Linked DNA regions of Homo sapiens. The protein of the gene in region 2 interacts with the protein of the main gene of each other region in a biochemical or structural test. Each region holds a gene or a part of one and is shown on either strand. Other genes may lie near its edges. The genes, in order: OGDH and DLD.

Region 1 (10,239 bases), about 63 Mb from region 2:
ATGAACCATCTCTGGCCCAATCAGGCCCCCTATACTGTGTGCAACAGCTCACTGTCTGAGTACGGCGTGCTGGGTGAGTGCCTGGAGCCACACCACCAGGGCCTGTCACCCACCCACCCCCGCTGGGCCTACTGGCTGGTGTCCTGGACATGGTTTTCTCCTTCCTTTGTCCCTTGTAGGCTTTGAGCTGGGCTTCGCCATGGCCAGTCCTAATGCCCTGGTCCTCTGGGAAGCCCAATTTGGTGACTTCCACAACACGGCCCAGTGTATCATCGACCAGTTCATCTGCCCGGGACAAGCCAAGTGGGTGCGGCAGAATGGCATCGTGTTGCTGCTGCCCCATGGCATGGAGGGCATGGTGAGCCTCTGGCCCTTCCCTGCCAGACCTAGGACTTGGGAAGGGCCTGTGTAGGACCCTGACCCCAAAGACTGGCACGAGAGCCAGTGGCTCACACCAGCCTCCTAAGGACTCTGCTGGTGCTTCCCATCCATCTCAGATGGGATGTCACTTCAGAAAGCCAGAGTAGCCCATCTGGATGTGGCTAGCATGCCCCGTCCCTGCTGGTGCAGACTCCCTAGATGCACAGGCGTCCAAGTGTGGAAATGATGAGCCAAGTGCTTTGCTGGTGGGAGGGGGAAGGAACTGAACCCTGCCATCAAGAAAAAAGATAACCAGAAATGAGCTAGTTGGTTGAGGAGGAACAGCAGATGCGGCAAATGTCAGTACGCAAGAGCTCTTAAACTGTAACTTGCGTGTGTGGTTCCAGGGTCCAGAACATTCCTCCGCCCGCCCAGAGCGGTTCTTGCAGATGTGCAACGATGACCCAGATGTCCTGCCAGTGAGTAATACAGGCCCTGTCAGCCCAGCCATTCTCGGGGTGTCTGGTGGGAAACCTGGGGAAGAGCAATCTATCTGGTCATCCTGAAGTGGCAGACCGTGCCTCTGTCCCTTTCTCCATCCTGGGGAGCTCACGTGAGTGGACAGGTGTGGCCCCATGCTTCTGGGCGCCCTGGGATGAGAGACTTCCTCAGAGCACAGAGGAAGGTGCAGGGACTGCCTCCATTGGCTTCCTGCTGTTGCTGCAAGCACAGAAACGCCATGTGAGCTCCTCAGCAAGGGCTCCTGCGGGATGCTTCCAGACCCTGATTCAGGTCTGGAAGCCCTGAGGAGGAGAGAACTTTGGGGCGATTCCAGTGAAACTTTAAGAACTCAAAGAACCAGCCTGGGCAACATGGTGAGACCCCGTCTCTACAAAAATTTTAAAAAGTAGCTGGGCGTGATGGTGCACGCCTGCAGTCCCAGCTACTTGGGAGGCTGAGGTGGGAGGATTGCTTGAGCTTGGGAGGTCAAGGCTGCAGTGAGCCAAGATCGTGCCACTGCACTCCAACCTGGGTGACAGAGCAATACCCTGTCTTAAAAAAAAAAAAAAAAAGAACTGTGCTGGGTGTGGTGGCTCAAGCCTGAAATCCCAGCACTTTGGGAGGCCCAGGCAGGCGGATCATGAGGTCAGGAGTTTGAGACCAGCCTGGCCAATATGGTGAAACCCTGTCTTTACTAAAAATACAAAAACTAGCTGGGCATGGTGGCGCCCACCTGTAATCCCAGCTAGTCTGAGGCTGAGGCAGGAGAATTGCTTAAACCCGGGAAGCAGAGGTTGCAGTGAGCCAAGATTGTGCCGCTGCACTCCAGCCTGGGCAGCTCCGTCTCACAAAAAAAGAACTGGCCAGGCGCAGTGGCTCACGCCTGTAAGCTCAACACTTTGGAGGCCCAGGCAGGTGGATCACGAGGCCAGGAGTTTGAGACCACCCTGGCCAATATAGTGAAACCCCGTCTCTACTAAAAATACAAAAATTATTCAGGCGTGGTGGCGGGCACCTGTAGTCCCAACTACTCAGGAGGCTGAGGCAGAGAATCGCTTGAACCCGGGAGGTGGAGGTTGCAGTGAGCCAAGATTGCGCCACTGCACTCCAGCCTAGGCGACAGAGGGAGACTCCTGTCTCAAAAAAAAAAAAAAAAAAAAAAAACTCAAAGAAAATGATTAGGTGTCAGTGTCTAAGGAAAATTGGTTTTAGGTAGAACTTGTGTCTCTTAAAGTGGTATTTGTTTCATGCTGGGCAATAGCTTTCAGAGAAATAGTATGGATTGAGTGGGACTGAGGCTCTCCTCCAGGGTATGAGGCTGGCCGAAGGAGCTTGCTGGACTCACTTGTTAGTGTCAGCTTATGTCTCCTGGGGAGTCAGTGTGTTAGGCCATTCTTGTGTTGCTATAAAGAAAAACCTGAGACTGGGTAATTTATAAAGAAAAGTTTAATTGGCTCACAGTTCTGTAGGCTGTACAGGAAGCATGATGCTGGCATCTGCTCAGCTTCTGGGGAGGCCTCAGGAAGCTTACAATCATGACAGAAGATGAAGTGGGAGAGCAGGCATGTCACATGGCCAGAGCAGGAGTAAGAGAGTGGGGGAGAGGGGCCACACACTTTCAACAACCAGATCTCGTGTGAACTCAGAGTGAGAGCTCACTCATCACCAAGGGGATGGCCCAAGCTCTAATCCTAACACCTCCCACCAGGCCCCACCTCCAGCAGTGGGAGATTACAATTCAACATGAGATTTGGGCAGGGACAAATATCCAAACTAGATCACCTGAGGGCCCCCACATGCCCCAGAAGACTCAGTGCTGTGTCCTGGCCTCTGGCCATTTCCTTCCCTGCTGCAGGACCTTAAAGAAGCCAACTTCGACATCAATCAGCTATATGACTGCAATTGGGTTGTTGTCAACTGCTCCACTCCTGGCAACTTCTTCCACGTGCTACGACGCCAGATCCTGCTGCCATTCCGGAAGCCGGTCAGTGGCAGGGCCTCCCTTGCTCAAACGAGGCCTGGCCCTGCCCTGTTGGTGCAGGGAAGGGCTCCTCAGAGAGCCTCTTGCTTGGGGTTAGCTAGGTGGGCACCTGCAGGGGTAGTGTGGACAGGACATGGTGTCAGGGAGCCTCGCCCTTCCTCCTCACTGCTGCCATGAGGGAACTGCGTGTTCTGTGTGTCCTCTTCCCCGACTGGGCCCCTGCATACTGCTGAGCACCACATGCGGAGCAATCACATAGGCTGCAGGCCCCAGCCCGGTGGGGAGGACGGATGTTTGAACAGGTGGTCATAGGGGGTGTGCTGAGCTCTGGAAGAGAGGTGAGCCCTGGCAGAGGCCAAGGGAGTGCAGGGTCCCCAGGGAGCGGCTCCTGAGCTGGGTGTTGAAGGGTGAGTAGAAGTTGAGTGGAGGGATACGTTGGAGAAGTGATTCATAAAAAGGAAGGAGGCCGGGCGAGGTGGCTCACGCCTGTAATCCCAGCACTTTGTGAGGCCGAGGCAGGTGGATCATGAGGTCAGGAGATGGAGACCATCCTGGCTAGCACAGTGAAACCCCGTCTCTACCAAAAAAAATACAAAAAAATTAGCCGGGCATGACAGCGGGCACTTGCAGTCCCAGCTACTTAGGAGGCTGAGGCAGGAGAATAGGAGAATAGCGTGAACCCGGGAGGCGGAGCTGGCAGTGAGCCGAGATCGCACCACTGCACTCCAGCCTGGGCAACAGAGCGAGACTCCGTCTCAAAAAACAAAAAAAAGGAAGGAGTGTGGGGGACAGCGAGGGAGTGCCCTGCTGCCCTGGGATACCGCGGGGGTGGGAGTATGGGGTGGAGGCTTGCAGCTCGGAGTGTCCCCAGCAGTCCAAGGGCCCACAGGGCAGGACAGCCCTGGTGCTTCTTGGTGCTGGGCCATGTCACAGCCTTACATGGGCTTTGGGTGCATTTGCTCTGAGACTGCCAAGGAGAGGGTCAGAGCTCTTTCCTAGGTACAGAGAAGCAGGGAAGGGAGTATTGGGAGTCCGAGCAGGCTGGGATGGGCCCTGCCAGGAGTGGATACCCAGCTAGGGGAGGTGAACAGCAGGGAAATTGGTCATCTTTCCTTTTCCCTCCTTCTCTGCCTCTTCTGACCTGAGGCTCCTGTTGAGTGGGAGGGCAGGTGTGTTTCATGGCCTGAAGGTCAAGGCTTGGGTAGCCTTGCTTTTGACCTTCCTTCTGGAATCTTCAGAATCTGATCCTTCACGAGCCTATTGTTCTGTATTTCAGTTAATTATCTTCACCCCCAAATCCCTGTTGCGCCACCCCGAGGCCAGATCCAGCTTTGATGAGATGCTTCCAGGTGGGTGTGAGGGAGATGGGCATTTCCTTGGGGGAAGCTATGTTTGGGGCTTCTTTGCTGCTGCTCTTTTACAGCTCATGGGACTGACATTTGTGATTCTCACTGGCTCTTGCCAGATTTTTGGTTGTAAAGACCCGTGATACATGGCTGGGCACAGTGGCTCACGCCTGTAATCCCAGCACTTTGGGAGGCCGAGGCAGGCAGATCATCTGAGGTCAGGAGTTCGAGGGCAGATCACCTGAGGTCGGGAGTTCGAGACTAGCCTGACCAACATGGAGAAACGCCATCTCCACTAAAAATACAAAATTAGCCAGGCGTAGTGCCACATGTCTGTAATCCCAGCTACTCAGGAGGCTGAGGCAGGAGAATTGCTTGAACCCAGGAGGTGGACGTTGCAGTGAGCTGCTATCACGCCATTGCACTCCAGCCTGGGCAATAAGAGCAAAACTCCGGCACAAAAAAAAAAAAAAAAGTCCCATGATACCAGATGAGGGAGGTCACAGCTTACATTCACGTTGGTCAAATGACATGTCTTAACATGCAGCCCAGGAGCTGTTGCCTCTCACCTGCAAATGCCCCCAAGGACTCCACTAGAGGCAATTAAGTATGTCCAAGATTGAGGGTTAGTGCCGCTGCCTGCGGCCTCCTTCAGCAGGTGAGTGGCAGCTCACCACTGGCTCAGAGGCCCAGCCCCAAAGCAAGCCCTTCAGGACAGAGAAAAAAACACTGGACGGCAGGTCCTGCCAAGTCACATGCCAGCTGCACTTGTGTGAAGGGAGACCCATAACATTGAGATTTCTATAGGGACAGTGGAGTGCAGGATGTTGACACAGCCTTTACCACCCACCAGGGGTCACCAGGCCAGGAAGCCTGCATCCCACCAGTCACCAAACCCCCTTTAGTCTTCAATCAAGGTGAGCCCCTTGTTTTTTGGGGGTTTTTTCCCAATCTTTTTTTATTTTTAATTTTATTTATTTATTTATTTATTTATTTTTGAGACGGAGTCTCGCTCTATCGCTCAGGCTGGAGTGTGGTGGCACAATCTCGACTCACTGCAAGCTCCACCTCCCGGGTTCACGCCATTCTCCCACCTCAGCCTCCCAAGTAGCTGGGACTGCAGGCGCCCGCCACCACGCCTGGCTAATTTTGTTTTTGTATTTTTAGTAGAGACGGGGTTTCACCGTGTTAGCCAGGATGGTGTCAATCTCCTGACCTCATGATCCACCCATCTTGGCCTCCTAAAGTGCTGGGATTACAGGCATGAGCCACCATGCCCAGCCCCCAGTCTTTTTTTATTATGGTAAAATACACAACATAAAATTTACCATTTTGACCATTTTTAAGTATCCAGTTCAGTGTGTTACTGCCTCTATAAATTTGACTACTCTATGGAACTCATAAGTGAAATCATACAGTCTTTGTCCCTTGCGACTGGCTTGTTTCATTTAGTATAATGTCTGCGAGGTCCATCCATGTTGTGTAGCATGTGTCAGAATTTCTTTTTTTTTAAGACTGAATAGCCAGGCATGGTGGCTCATGCCTATAATCCCAGCACTTTGGGAGTTCGAGGCAGGTGGATCACTTGAGGTCACAAGTTTGAGACGAGCCTGGCCAACAGGGTGAAACCCCGTCTCTATTAAAAATACAAAAATTAGCAGGGTGTGGTGGTGCACGCCCTGCTACTCTGGAGGCTAAGGCAGGAGAATTGCTTGAACCCGGGAGGCAGAGGTTGCAGTGAGCTGAGATTGCACCACTGCACTACAGCCTGGGCAACAGAGTAGGACTCCATCTCAAAACAAAACAAAACAAAAAAGACTGAATAGGCTGGGCCCAGTGGCTTACACCTGTAATCTCAGCACTTTGGGAGGCTGAGGCAGGTCGATCACTTGAGGTCACGAATTTGAGACCAGCTTGACCAATATGATGAAACCCCATCTCTACGAAAAATACAAAAATTAGCTGGGCATGGTGGCGCGCACCCGTAATCCCAGCTACTCAGGATGCTGAGGCAGGAGAATTGCTTGAACCTGGGAGGCAGAGGTTGCAGTGAGCCAAGATTGCGCCACTGCATTCCAGCCTGGGTGACAGAGACTCCGTCTCAAAAAAAATAAATAAATAAACTAGCCGGGGGTGGTGGCGCATACCTGTAATCCCAGCTACTCAGGAGGCTGAGGCAGGAGAATCACTTGAACATGGGAGGCAGAGGTTGTGGTGAGCCAAGATCACGCCGTTGCACTCCAGCCTGGACAACAAGAGCGAAACTCCGTCTCAAAAAAAAAAAAAGACTGAATAATACTCCATTATATGTGTATGCCACATTTTGCTCATCCATTCATCTGTCGATGGACACTTGGGTTGCTTCCATGTTTCAGCTATTATGATTAGAGGAGCTGCTATGAACATTGGTGTACAAATATTTCTTTGAGTCCCTGCTTTCAGTTCTTTTGAATATGTACTCAGAAGTGGAATTGCTGGACCATATGGTAATTCTATTTTTAGTTTTTTGAGGAACTGCCAAACTTTCCACAGTGGCTGCATTTTACATCCCACCAACAGTATATGAGGATCCCACCATCTCTACATCCTCATCAGCACCTACTATTTTCTGGTTTTTTCATAGTAGCCATCTTAATGGGTGTGAGATGATATTTCATTGTGGCTTTGATTTATATTTCTGTAATGATTAAGTGATGTTGAGCATCTTTTCATATGCTTATTGGCCACTTGTATATCTTCCTTGGAGAACTGTCTATTAAAATCCTTTTTTTTTTTAATTTAATTTTTTTTAAGAGACAGGATCTCTCTATGTTGCCCAGGCTAGTCTTGAACTCCTGGGCTCAAGGAATCCTCCTACTTTGGCCTCAAAGTATTGAGATTACAGGCATGAGCCACGGTACCCAGCCTATTCAAATTATTTGCCCATTTTTGAATCTGGTTGCTTGTTTTTGAGTCTTAAGAGTTCTCTGTATATTCTAGATATTAATTCCTTATCAGAAATATAATTTGCAAATATTTTCTCCCGTTCTATGGGTTGTTCTTTTATTCTGTTGTTAGTATCTTTGGTTTTGGTTTTGGGTTTGGGTGTTTTTTTTGTTTGTTTTTTGTTTTTTTCCGAGATGGAGTCTTACTCTGTTACCCAGGCTGGAGTGCATTAGTGCAATCTCAGCTCACTGCAACCTCTGCCTCCCAGGTTCAAGTGATTCTCCTGCCTCAGCCTCCCAAGTAGCTGGGATTACAGGCGCACGCCACCATGCCTAGCTAATTTTTGTATTTTTAGTATAGACAGGGTTCCACCATGTTGACCAGGCTGGTCTTGAACTCCTGACCTCAGGTGATCTGCCCACCACAGCCTCCCAAAGTGCTGGGATTACAGGCGTGAGGCACTGCACCTGGCCTGTTGTTAGTATCTTTTGATGTACAAAAGTTTTTAATTTTCTTTTTTTTTTTTTTTTTTTGAGACGGAGTCTCGCTCTGTCGCCCAGGCTGGAGTGCAGTGGCGGGATCTCGGCTCACTGCAAGCTCCACCTCCCGGGTTCACGCCATTCTCCTGCCTCAGCCTCCCAAGTAGCTGGGACTACAGGCGCCCGCCACTACGCCCAGCTAATTTTTTGTATTTTTAGTAGAGACGGGGTTTCACCGTTTTAGCCGGGATGGTCTCGATCTCCTGACCTCGTGATCCGCCCGCCTCGGCCTCCCAAAGTGCTGGGATTACAGGCGTGAGCCACCGCGCCCGGCCAAGTTTTTAATTTTCATGAAGTCAGATTTGTCTATTTTTTCTTCAGTTGCCTGTGACTTTGGTGTCATATCTAAGAAATCATTACCAAATTCAGTGTTGTGAAACTTTTGCCCTATGTTTTCTTCTGAGTTTTATAGTTTTTGCTCTTATGTTTAGATCTTTGACCCACTTTGAGCTAATTTGTTTTGTTTTTTATTTTTTGTTTGTGTTTTTTTGAGACAGAGTCTCACTCTGTCATCCAGGCTGATGCAATCGTAGCTCACTGCAGCCTCAATTCCTGGGCTCAAGTGATCCTCCTACTTTGGCCTCCCAGAGTACTGGGATTACATGTGTGAGCCACTGTGCCCAGACTTTTATTCTGTTTGTATCATAAATGGAATTGTTGGCCTAATTTCCTCTTCTTATTGTTCATTGTTAGTGTATAGAAACACAACTGGTTTTGGTTACGTGCATATGATGCGTAGTGCTTAAGTCAGGGTATTAGGGTGTCCGTCACCCGAGTACGATACATGTTTGTTAACCTTACTCCTTTATCAAACGTTGAACTTAATTCCTTCTATCTAACTGTATGTTTGTACCATTCAACCCACTTTTCTATATTTTTTTGAGATAGATTCTTACCCTGTCACCCAGGTTGGAGTGCAGAGGCATGGTCATCATGGTTCACTGTAACCTCTGCCTCCCAGGCTAGAGTGATTCTCCCACCAAAGCCTCCCAAGTAGCTGGGAACACAAGGTGTGCACCACCGTGCCTGGCTAATTTTTGTACTTTTGTAGAGACGGAGTATCACCATGTTGCCCAGGCTGGTCTCGAACTCCTGAGCTCAAGGGATCCTCCTGCCTCAGCCTCCCAAAGTGCTGGCCAACCCACTGTTCTCTATCTGAATATTTTCTCTGATTGTGTTGAAAGTTTTTATATTTGTAAAATTCTGAGCAGCAGAAACAGAGTAAACATGGGATTTTTTTTATATAATTTTTTTTTTTTTTTGAGATGGAGTTTTGCTCTTGTTGCCCAGGCTGGAGTGCAATGGCGCATTCTTGGCTCACCACAACCTCCGCCTCCCGGGTTCAAGCAATTCTCCTGCCTCGGCCCCCCGAGTAGCTGAGATTACAGGCATGCGCCACCATGCCTGGCTTATTTTGTATTTCTAGTAAAGACAGGGTTTCACCATGTTGGTCAGTCTGGTCTCGAACTCCTGACCTCAGGTGATCCGCCTGCCTCAGCCTCCCAAAGTGCTGGGATTTACAGGCGTGAGCCATGCGCCCGGCTGGTATTTTTTTTTTTTTTTGTCTGGAGATGGAGTCTTGCTCTGTTGCCCAGACTGTAGTGCATGATCTCAGCTCACTGCAACCTCTGCCTCCCGGGCCCAACCGATTCTTCCACCTCAGCCTCCCGAGTAGCTGGGACCACAGGCGCACACCACCATGCCTGGCTCATTTTTTGTATTTTTTTAGTAGAGACGGGGTTTCACCATGTTGCCCAGGCTGGTCTCGAACTCCTGAACTCAGGCAATCCGCCCGCCTCAGCTTCCCAAAGTGCTAGGATTGCAGGCGTGAGCCACCGCACCCGGCCGGGATGTTTTAATAATACTCTTGTCCCCGAAGTCTGAGCCAAGCTGTTTTGAAGGCTAGCCTGGTGTTACTTGATACCCAGAGCTGGCCATGTCTGCTGTGTATTTGTTACACGTAACGTGCTTTTCAAAGTGTGCCTGGTCTGAGCAAATACAGGGCATCAGAGGCTGGTGAAGGGGAAGCATCTCTAACCCTTGAAAGCTGCGTCTCCTGGCAGCAGTCCCTGGCACAGCCCTGGGCCCAGGAGAGCTCTCAGCCACATACCTGAGAGAACCAGCCTAGCCATGGGAACTCTCTTGTAGGAACCCACTTCCAGCGGGTGATCCCAGAAGATGGCCCTGCAGCTCAGAACCCAGAAAATGTCAAAAGGCTTCTCTTCTGCACCGGCAAAGTGTATTATGACCTCACCCGGGAGCGCAAAGCACGCGACATGGTGGGGCAGGTGGCCATCACAAGGATTGAGCAGGTGAGGGCAGGTGGTGCCATCAGGGTGTCCCCCCAGCGGGGGTCAGGGCTCTGGTGCCTTCACAGAACAGCCTTGCTTGGGGTGTGGCCCTCAGGTTCCTGACCTTCCCTGCTCGGAACACCAGTTTCCCTTTGCTGGATCTTGCCTGCCCTCTGAGTTTCCTCTTTTTGATCTGACCCCTGCTGTCTCCTAGCTGTCGCCATTCCCCTTTGACCTCCTGCTGAAGGAGGTGCAGAAGTACCCCAATGCTGAGCTGGCCTGGTGCCAGGAGGAGC
Region 2 (11,775 bases):
AAATTTAAATCTGTTCAATTCCAAAAAAGATGTTTTTTAACACTACACTAAACTGGAATGGAAGAAAGGCAAAATATAAAAAATGAAAATACAGTTATGTGAATAATCTTTACAAGAAAATAAATAGATATCATGACTACACAGTAAATTCTCTAATAAGTTTTTAAAAAGACATGTAAAAACTAATTCAATACAGTAACAGGTATCTAAATCATTGTGTCAAAAGACTCAAGGCTTATAAAAAACCTAAAGCAAAACTGCTGAGATGAAGAAATAGAATTATTGCTTCGAGATATTATAATGACCAACAAAAGAAAGTAAATGTTATTCCTTTTTTCTTGTTTTATCCAACTATGAGAACAAAGTAGAATGAACAGAAGAAATATTATTAACCAAGAGGCAACGCCCAAGATTAAGAACAACTGGTCATTTTTAAAGAGTTAATTCCCGGCTGGGTGTGGTGGCTCATGCCTGTAATCCCAGCACTTTGGGAGGCCGAGGCAGACGGATCATGAGGTCAGGAGTTCAAGACCAGCCTGGCCAACATGGTGAAACCCCGTCCCTACTAAAAATACAAAGAAAAATTATCTGGGTATGGTGGTGCGTGCCTGTAATCCCAGCTACTCAGGAGGCTGAGGCAGGAGAATTGCTTGAACTGGGACCTGGGAGGTGGAGGCTGCAGTGAGCCGAGATCATGCCACTGTATTCCAGCCGGGGCTACAGAGCGAGACTCCATCTCAAAAAAAAAAAAAAAAAAAAAAAAAGTTAATTCTCCCATCAACCCAATTAGAGTATGACAAAACAGGCACTCTCAGTGAACTCTGGGAACTTACTTAGCACAAGGGAACTGCCAAAAGGTGGCAGACAGGCAAATATGCCTAAATTTTCAAAAATGGAAAAGAAGAGATTCTGCTAAATACTAGAAGACATTATTAATCAGCTGGTTTCACAATCAGTAGACACTACCACAAGTGTTCCAAACAGGTCACATAAACCACTCTTACTTTCTGAAGGGTTTCTGGACTGGTGAATGTAGTATATTTTGATATCAGCAAGGTGTTAAAAAAAATTTTAAGAAAATCTCATGATATCCTTGTAGATGAGATGGAGAAACGAAGATGAATAAACATCAAAGGTGTTTATAACTGGTGAAAGACTGTACTGTCAGATGGCTTTCGATGTTTCATCCTGGTCAAAAATTTGTACTAATGACGTGAATGACAACAGAAGTTTGCTTAACCAAGATCAGATCAGATGATGGGACTGCATGCCTTAATTGTCATACTTCCAAAATTTACGAACTATGAAAAGTAAAAGCAGTTAAGTATAAGAGTGACAGAATCAAGACTAAGATATAGATTGGAATAATGAGTATGAGTGAACAAGATTAAATTAAAGCAAGAATAAAGGTTCAAAGTCACTTAGGTTTAAAAAATCAGAATTCCAAATGCGAAAAAAATGTGGTTTTTATCTGAACATAAGCTCAATGTCTGCTTTATAAAAACAACTAAACTGATTTCAAAGCATTACATTACAAGAAGTATACTATGCATATCAAAAGAAGTACTCTCTACAACCCAGAACATTATGTTTAGATTACAAGTTTTCTTAACGGACTAGACAGGATCCAAAGGTTGATGACAAAATAACAGACCTGCTGTCTAGGAGACCTAAGTACTAAACATTAAGAAAAACAATGGAGATTCAAATAGGAATTAAAAATTCGGTCCTGCCTTCAAGGAGCTTTGGTCTTATAGGAAAGTCAGCCATAGACAAACAAATGCAATGTATTATTATTAGTGGGTACTATGGAAATGTAGATATATTATACTAAGGACTCAAAAAATGAAAGACTTGAGCTTTCTTAGAAGAAAGAATTATTCACTAAAAAGATAACTTAAAAGCTGATTTTTGTTTTGGGGTTTTTTTTTTTTTTTGAGACAGGGTCTCACTCTTTTGCCCAGGATGGAGTGCACTGGCATGACCCAGCTCACTACAGCCTCAAACTCCCAGGCTCAGGTGATTCTCCCATCTCAACCTCCTGAGTAGCTGGGACTACAGGCACACACCACCATGCCCAACTAATTTTTTACATTTTTTTAGAGATAAGTTCTCACATTGTTGCCCAGGCTAGTCTCAAACTCTTGGGCTTAAGCAATCTGCCTGCCTCAGCCTCCCAAAGTGCTGGGATTATAGACATGAACCATCATGCGCATCACAAGGTCAGGAGTTCGAGACCAGCCTGACCAATATGGTGAAACCCCGTCTCTACTAAAAATACAAAAATTAGCCGGGCGTGCTGGCGGGCGCCTGTAGTCTCAGCTACTTGGGAGGCTGAGGCAGGAGAATCACTTGAACCCGGGAGGCAGAAGTTGCAGTGAGCCGAGATCGCGCCACTGCACTCCAGCCTGGGCGACACAGCAAGACTCGGACTCAAAAAAAAAAAAAAAGAAAAACAAAAATACTAACAATTAAAGGGAAGCCTAAGAAAGGGGAACTTGCATAATATGGAGAATTCAGCCCAAAGAGCAGATGTAAAAATGGAAGAATATGAAATCACAGAAGTTAGGCAAAGTGTTTCAAAGGCAAGAAAATCAGCAATGCTAATTACTGCCAAATAAAGCAGTGAAGAAATTAGTCCAACAGATTGAGCAATAAATAGATTCATGCCCTAAGAGCAATTTATTGGCACAAGCCATAGACTGAGTGAGTGGAAGTTGATGAAATAAAGCATGGACAACTCTTTTGAGAAGCTGGGTTTTGAAGGAAAAGTGCGAACAAAATTGGTAACTCAAGAAGGACATGGGACCAAGATAAGGAGCATTTATGTGCACACAAACCTGTGTTAATGAGTGCAAATGCATCACAGGTACACACATAGAAGCACATGAAATTGTAAATAAAAGGAAGGAGTTTGAAGACTGAAAAATACAAGAATAAAAATCACAAAACCAAGTCTCTGAAAAGGCAGATGATGTGCTACCAAGCACAAGTAAAGGGATTAGTCTTAGGGAAAATGGCATTTCCACAGTAATAGGAGAGGTAATCAAAAGGATAGGTGTAACAACAGGTAAAAGCATTATCAAATTTAGGACATCAACTTGAGGGAGTTCTCATCTGATTTCTCTTTTATGTAATATTTAAAAGACAAGGTCATCCACAGGCAGAGCAGACAGTATACAAGCAGAGATTTGAGAAGAGTAGAAAATGAAAATGGCCATTGCAGAGACCAGGGCAGTGTACCATCTTAGGAAATAATAAACTGTCAGCAAGGCTGAGGTTCTTGTTAAGGTTTGTGCCAAGAATTAATACAAGTACCAATGAGTAGGGTGTGTTTTTCTCCAGGTGTAGTCAACAGCCTGGAAATAGCATAAAAAAGGCAGACTGCTGCATTCAAACCGAACTAGAGTTTTGCCAAGCAGATATGACAGAACAGTGAGACAAGCAACTCAAGGACATCTGTAAGAGTGTGGTTAAAGTGATGGACTATGGCATCTAAGCTGATCAGGAACGCAGTCAAGATTGGAAAGGGAAGATTGCAAAAAAGTAGATCTATGGACTAGAAAACCTAAAAAAGGGTACAAAGTACACTATGAATAACTGAGTAAAAGAGGAAAGGAGGTCATGGTTACATAATAAAATATCTGAATTTATTATTTCAGAAGTAGAGCAATTCCTGGTGTTTACAAGGCACAGTGACTCTAAAATGGAGGGAGGTCATTGGAAATGTGTGGAAAGCTGCCAGATGGACAAGAAGGGAGAACAAGGCAGACAGAAGGTCTAAAATAACATGGTGTTCAAAGAAATGCAAGTAGTTTGACATTTCTAAAACCTAAGTTAAGAGGCATCAAGATGAGGATAGAGAAGGGAAGAGCCAAATCATGTATGTGATGGTAAAGAGAATAATCTTTATTTGGAATGCAATTTGCCCAGGATAAAAGCTGTCCTCAAATATCTGAATGGCTGTCATATTAAAAAAGAATTCGACCAGTTCTAGGAAATGGAAGGGTGGAAGGTACAAGGAAACAGACTAAAATAAAGGAGAACATTCTAAATGAGTAAATACATAAATAGGTTGTCTTGAAAAAAACAAAAGTAAACTCTTTATTACTAGAAGTGTTTAAGCAAAACTCAATGCTGATCAGCCTGTAATGTTATACAAAAAATCAAAAAGGGGACCTTTAAGTCCCTTCCAACTCCAAGGAGGTAATAAGAGGCAGAAAGACAACACTTACCAATTCTACACCTATTACTCCTGCACCAATAACAACCATCTTTTCTGGAACTTTTTTTAAAGATAAAGCACCTGTAGATGACACTATTGTATCTTCATCTATCTGTAAGAAAAACAAAAGATATAATCAAAATAATTTGAAAAAACCTAGTACAGTCGACCCTCCATATCCATGGGTTCCAAATTTGCAGATTTAACCAACCATTAATTGAAAATATTCAGGAAAAAAATTGATGGTTGCATCTGTACTGAACATGTACACATGGTTTTTTTGTCATTATTCCCTAAACAATACAGCATAGGAACTACTTGCATAGCATTTACAGTGTATTAGGTATTATAAGTAATCCAGAGATGACTTAAAGTATACAGGAGGAAGTATGCAGATTATATGCAAATACTATGTCATTTTATGTAAGGCACTTGAGCATCTGTGGGTTTTGGTATCCAAGGGGGGTCCTGGAACCAATCCTCCAAGGATATGAAGAGATAAATGTATTTATAAACTGTGATCTCAGTAGAATCACTAAAAATACTAAGTCATTTATTTGTTTTGAGGTATCTATATACCTAATTTCATCAAATCCCATTAAAAACACTGACTTTAAATTTTATCCACCAATATTCCAAACGCAATGGTCAATTTTAACTTCATACTGTATTCAAACATATCTTAATATAAAGTGTTCTATAGCTGGTCAGAATCACTGCAGAATAAAGACAGGTAACTTCCCAAAGCTGAATGACCATCAAAATATAGTATTTCAGTCAGAAATCTCTCAAAGTTCACAAATAGCATAAATAACTTATAAAACGTATTTCTAAAGAAAAGTTGTAATGGTTGTAAATTATGAAGCATAAATACCGTGATTCCAGGAAAAGGAGTAACTTCTGAACCCGTGGCTATAAGAATGTTCTTTGTATCAATAACCTGAGTGCCGCCATCAGCTTTCGTAGCAGTGACTTGATTTTTGCCAGTTATCTTTCCATATCCATTGACATGAACAACCTTTACAAAATAATCTTTATAAATTCACAAAGTTTAAAGTAATTTGTTTGATAAATCATTCAAAGGAAAAATTACTCTGTAAATAATTTATCTAAAACAAAATGCTTCCTTACTTAGTAATGCTACACCATGGTGCAGCAAAAAAATCTGTGATATATGTCAGGGAAATCTATTTCAGGTTAGCAAGCTATTTTAAATTAAATAAATATTCCCCTGTAACCAAGTTCAAATATCATCACTCTATAATGCAAAGTTTAATTTGTATTCAAAGTAAAGCAGAAATCTGAATATTAAACACTGACCTTATTCTGTTTGAATAAGTGGGCAATTCCACCTGTTAAAGCTTTTACTGCAGTACTCTTCTGCTCCATCATCTTGTCTAAATTCAAGCGAACTTCGGACACTGTAATTTGTTCAATTAATCTTTAGTTCTTAGCTAAATTCTTGAAGCAATATGCAGTGTTTTTCACTCACCAACTGGAAAATTTCAACCTAATGCTTATAAAAGGCAGTATTAAAGTTTCAAAATGTAATAACTTATAATTATAGTTGACAAAAGGCCAACATCATTGTATCACAGAAACAGAACCTATCAAACACTATAAAATGTCTACCTTGGGTAAAAAGGCAGTCCAAAATAAAACATTATATCCCACTGTGATAACATATCCTCTGAACACTTTACGATGGTTATAAGTCTGGAAGATATGTAAGTAGAAATGACAAAGTAAAACATCATCTGAAATTTTAAATAAAGGAAAATGCTAGATTTCATGAAACAAAACAAATAAAAAATACACGTTTAAAAATTTCAAATACAGAAGCTTAACATTAAAAAGTTTAATCACCTAGGTTTTAATCACTCATTCAACTCAGAAGAGAACTCTGAAGCAACAGTATTAGATAAAAATGCTCAACTCAATTAAACTTTAGAGGTAAGAAGGGTATCTTAGAAAGTACCTCATATAACCAACACATATATTAGAGATAAGGAAAAAGAGACTCTGAGAGATTTCTGATTTACCCAAGGTCACAGAGCTAGGATGTAAAAGCCTTGCCTACAATGCAGGTCTCCTGACTACCCCTAGCTCTTCTTTCTTTACGTCATTCCATTTTTCAACTAGTATGATATTCTATTTGCTTTAGTGCATATACATCATCTCTATACCCAATGGATTGCCTTAAGTAGCCCCTCAAACCTACCTCTGTAAAGAAACAAATGAAGGAAAAGTAACAACCCAAGGTTATGACTAGGTCCTGCCCAGAAGAGACTACCTTTCTGGAAGTATCTAACAACAACAATAATTGGAGACAAAAGATTAAAACAGCTCAAAAAGTATGTCAGGAGACAAGATACGTTATGAAATGTCCTCTTCCTTTTCCGCTATGCCTCACTCTTTCTCTCCTCTAATTTTTCTACTATCAACAGCTTAAGTGGGCCTTCCTTCCTTCCTCTATCTCCCCATAGTACTCAGGAATCCAGCCTTCTCAGTGATTTCCAGATTTTAGGAAATGAAAACTGACTCTTCAAAAACACATAAAGGCAAACCTCAGGAAAAAGTTGGCAAAGGAACAGAAGATATAATGGTAGAAATCTGGATTTGCAGGGTTAGGCTTGGTTATACTTGGCTGGGAGAAATCTGGATTTAGGCCTTCTTTTTTAAGTAAATCTCTCCACATTTTTTAGATTATTTATTTTACTCTTCCTTCACTAAACATCTATTATGCGTACGTTAGACACATTTAAGTCTTTAGACAGAAGAGCCAAGTCAAGCAGTCTGGTAATATCATTAAGCATGAAAAGTATACTTACTTTCAATTCCTCTAGATGCAAAATCTTTTCCATGGGCCATATGGTAATAATGAGAGTTGTTCAATAAAGCCTAAAGGAAATTAAAAAGATCAAATTATCAAATATTCATAAACAGACTTCAAATAATCAAAAAGCACTTATGAAATGATAGTCTTTCTTTTCATTTTTTGAGACGGAGTTTCGTTCTTATTGCCCAAGCTGGAGTGCAATGGCGCCATCTCAGCTCACCGCAACCTCCGCCTCCCGGGCTCAAGCAATTGTCCCTGGGATTACAGGCATGCATCACCACGCCTGGCTAATTTTGTATTTTTAGTAGAGATGGGGTTTCTCCATGTTGGTCAGGCTGGTCCCAAACTCCCAGCCTCAGGTGATCCACCCGCCTCGGCCTCCCAAAGTGCTGGGATTACAGACGTGAGCCACCGCGCCCGGCCGATATTCTCTTTCAAATGTTCTCATCACAAAAATGATAAGTACTGTGGTAATGAATATGTTAATTAACTTGACTAAATTATTCCACATTATAGTCATAAATCATAACACCACTTTGTATGCCATAAATATATACAATTGTAATTTGTCAATTTACAATAAAAATTTAAAAAGAAGTTAAAAAAAAGACATGGCATTCTCTACATGGAATAGTATATGGCACTACACCAATTCAGTTTCTCTTATTAATCAAAGACAAACAATAATGATGTGAAAAACATTCAACAAACAAGAATGAAAAAGACATTTTTACTTTCTTTAAAAGTAAAGGCATAAGTACACACTTCAGGGTGGCAGGTGAAAAAGGCAGTCATGTTTACATACAAAAAGGACCTAAAAGAACAATTTACTATCTATTATCTGTTACACTGGTGAAGGAAAGATAAAGAGAAAAAACTAGAACATCAGAGTCTGTTTGAATGGAAAGCTAGGCATTCTGAGACAAGGAAGTTATTTCAGGAATGTGTGGCAGACTAGTGACAGCACTCTTTAAGTTTTACAAAAGAGAAGTGTGTTTTTTATCATTCTTTTTTTTCTCTGTGTGAAATGTGCCACAACTTGGATTGTTTTTTAACAAGTGTATTTGTCTAATCTAGTCTCAATCCATCCTTCTAGTTGGTTGCTAGCCAAAAACAATCTCTGTGCTGTACAAAACACATGCTCACCTTAGAAGGAATACAACCAACATTCAAGCATGTTCCACCAAGTGTTTCATTTTTCTCAATGCAGACTGTCTACAACCAAAGAAAACATTATTTAACTGCACATAACCTCAATGTTTCAGATCACTAAAATTCCAAATATATGTCTTAATTCTTCTACAAAACAAGCTATTCGGGCTATGTTTTCACAGACTAAAATATATAGTCCTTTATAATTTATCATTTGAATAATAATAAACACTTTTGGGCTGACCCAAAAGTGAATTATTCTAAAAGATATTTTTGTGTGCTTAACATTACCAAATATATGCTTTTAGTTCTATCACTGTATCTTCCAAAGTGTGATTAGATGCCAAAATGAAAAGTACTGGGAAGAGAAGAAAACTAATAGATTTCACTTTCCATTCCAAGAGAATACTACAACCAAATGAACCTAATCTTTATTAGTCTCAGGCTTACAAGTAATTTATAGAGTTAAGGAAGTATTTACCATGTTTTTGCCTGCAAAGTACTTTATAAATATGATCAACCCTTCCCAAATTAAAATAAATCAATACTTAGTTTGAGTTCAAACCTTACCTTGAAGCCTAACTGGGCAGCTTTAATAGCAGCAACATATCCTCCAGGACCAGAACCTATAACTGTTACATCAGCATCAACTACGATAAAAGCAAATTGATATAAAATAGTAAATTGCTTAATATTTACCAAAAAGAGCTCTTTGGAAGAGCAAACAAATAACCCGATACTTAAACCTCTTACAGTACAAATCAGCATTTTCTACATAGTTTCTGCACTATTTTATTACTACTACTTGATGCTCTTTGATGCTACTGAAAAATGGCATAAATACTCAAATTTCATTTTCTATTATTTTCTATTCATTACAACATACAGAAACACAACTGAGTTCTGTAACACTCACATTGTATTCACTGACCTTCCTAAATTCTATTGATTTAATAACTGACGGAATTTAGTGATACTGGAAGACAAGTATGTATGAAGCAAAGAGCCTGAGCTTTGGAATCTGACATTCTGGGCTTCATATCTCAGCACGGCCAATGAGTAGTTGTATGAACTTGACCCAATGACTTAACCTTTCTGTAATATGGGGATGAAAACACTGCCTTCAATGATTGATGTTAGAATTAAATAAGATAATTTTATATAATGCTTTAGTATTTCCAATAAATTTAAGACCTATTACCTTTTTCAGGTCCTTAACTTCTGAAATATGAGGGAAAAAACAGCTTCTATGTAATATTTAACAAATATGTTTTGTACTTGCATATTGATAATTTTTACATACCTTAAGATAATAGGCTAACCAGAATATTCAATTAACTATTGTGGCCATTTTTCAAATAAAGATAAAAAATTGAAAATTAATTTTGATCAGTATCCTTAGGAGTTTAACAATTGTAATACAAATGTGCAAGTAAGTCCAATTACTCCCATTCTTCTCAATCCAACTTCAAATAAAGTAACAGTGACTGTTAAGAGTTAGGAAACAGTCTCCCTTTTCTTCCCCTTCCACTGTCCTGACAACCCCAACTAGTCTAGCATTTAGCAATTCATAACACATATTCACATATATTATCATGTTTGAGTCTCAGAATTTCCTATGAGGAAGATAAAGATGTCATAAATAAGACATTTCACAGAATAAACAAGAAGTTCAGAGAGGTCAATTAACTTGTCTAAGGTTAACCAGCAAGTGAGTTGCAGAGACAAACTAAGCTTTTTGACTCTACTTCCGGTGGTCTTTCCATTATTCAATACTATTCCATTCCTCAGTTTTAACCATCATAAACTAAAATTCCAGAGAGCAATAATCAAGCTTTATAATCACTACCTATGTGACCTTAGGTGAGTAATTTAACCTGCTTCATCTTTGTTTCCATACCTGGCAAAAGAAAGACCACAAAAAAAACCTACTTCATAGGGTGATAACAGAATAAAATAATGTATGTAAATAATTTAGCATAGTACCTATAGCATACATAATAAGTATTCTATACATAGTAGCTATATTCTGACCTACAAAGAAGACTATTTTAATTTGCATCACCCCCTCTCCCCAAAAACACACATCCCTAGAGTAGGATCATTCAAAAAACCTTTGCTGGCCTGAACAGAATCACAGAACCTCTGTGTTGGTGGATAACTAAGTTACTCAGCCCAATTATCCACAAAATCTAAGAATCCCTCCTGTTGAATAAATGAAAATACTAGATTCTCTTTGGTTATAGCAGATGATAATTGAGATAATACATGAAAAAATATGTATAGTCATTTCAATACATGAAAAATTGCTTCAATTTTTACTGATCCATCTGTGCTTTTTAGCCACCCTGCTTGGTTCACTGATTTCGGTTCAGAATTAAGTATCTAATAAAATGTATTTTTATTTTCAAATCTTGAACCAAATGACGATCTACACAACATCCCTTAAATGGGTTCTAATTTTTAATTTCAGAGTAATGTAAATACAAGCTACAAAACAGGTTTCTTTGCTGAATTTTTAATGTCTTTTCTGATTAAAAATTTAGGTTTACTGAATAAATTTAAATACACTAAAGCAAAATTAAAAAAAAAACAACCCATCCACATTGCCATACAGCCCAGAGAGAACTGTTTATAGGTCCTCCCAATCCTTCTTCTAGGAAAGTTTTTATAAAATTCAATTTTTGCCATATTTTATATTCTTTTCTCACTCTTACATGAGCATATATATTTATAACATATATTACTGCTATAATTCTCCAAAAACCCTTTTAATGACAATAAAACTGAATTAAATATTTTAGATTTTAAGTATATGTATTTTTGAGCATATACTTTTAATCACTGATATGTAACAATTCTTATAGTAGGTCCATGGTACTAAAATGATAAATAAATTTGGTTTGGAAAAGAACTTGTTTTAGTAAGGTCAGGAGAAGTAAACAAGAGATAAAAGATAATAGCCAAAAACCTTGGGTTTTACTTCCCTATTCACTATGTAATCTTAGGTGTTTTTTTTTAAACTTCAGAAAATACCAAAAATTCAAGAGCTCCTCTCTCACTGTACATACTAGATGTAATATTCCATTACAATACCACTAAAGTGCTAAGATGCACAAAAATGAGAAAAAAGCAGACTCTTTATGTAAAGATCTGTCAACTGAGAATACAGGAGGGTATAAGCCAGGAACAAACTTTCAAAAACAAACCAGTATTTAGGGGAAGTATACACACGTCTGCACTGATGGATAAACGAATGAGCACATATGTGGTACTGTAAGCACAGAAAATGTTAATGGAAGAAAACTATGGGTGTTCAATGTAAAATTCTTATAATTTTCTAAATGCTTATAATTTTTCATAATAAAATGTCAGAAAAACAAATCATCTACCTCTCACCTGTACCAAAGGATGCATATAAATGAAAGCTGATAACACATGATTCTGACTCACCCTCTCCTTGTCAAGAATAATTTCACAGGTTGAGTCCCATACATAAAGTTAAAAAATCAGGGCCGGGTGTGGTGGCTCACACCTGTAATCCTCAGCACTTTGGGAG

The links.
Region 1: the proteins of DLD (region 2) and OGDH form a complex in vitro, tested with the Homo sapiens proteins (one study listed by BioGRID).

What each region holds. Positions count from the first base shown.
Region 1 is NC_000007.14:44,697,425-44,707,663, forward strand, and holds part of OGDH (2-oxoglutarate dehydrogenase complex component E1 isoform 1 precursor), read left to right. Parts: coding exon 1-73; intron 74-179; coding exon 180-358; intron 359-767; coding exon 768-839; intron 840-2,716; coding exon 2,717-2,845; intron 2,846-4,118; coding exon 4,119-4,191; intron 4,192-9,800; coding exon 9,801-9,964; intron 9,965-10,157; coding exon 10,158-10,239. UniProt on the Homo sapiens protein: 2-oxoglutarate dehydrogenase (E1o) component of the 2-oxoglutarate dehydrogenase complex (OGDHC). Participates in the first step, rate limiting for the overall conversion of 2-oxoglutarate to succinyl-CoA and CO(2) catalyzed by the whole OGDHC.
Region 2 is NC_000007.14:107,898,829-107,910,603, reverse strand, and holds part of DLD (dihydrolipoyl dehydrogenase, mitochondrial isoform 1 precursor), read right to left. Parts: intron 8,867-11,775; coding exon 8,787-8,866; intron 8,280-8,786; coding exon 8,211-8,279; intron 7,127-8,210; coding exon 7,057-7,126; intron 5,647-7,056; coding exon 5,546-5,646; intron 5,244-5,545; coding exon 5,100-5,243; intron 4,338-5,099; coding exon 4,236-4,337; intron 1-4,235. UniProt on the Homo sapiens protein: Lipoamide dehydrogenase is a component of the glycine cleavage system as well as an E3 component of three alpha-ketoacid dehydrogenase complexes (pyruvate-, alpha-ketoglutarate-, and branched-chain amino acid-dehydrogenase complex).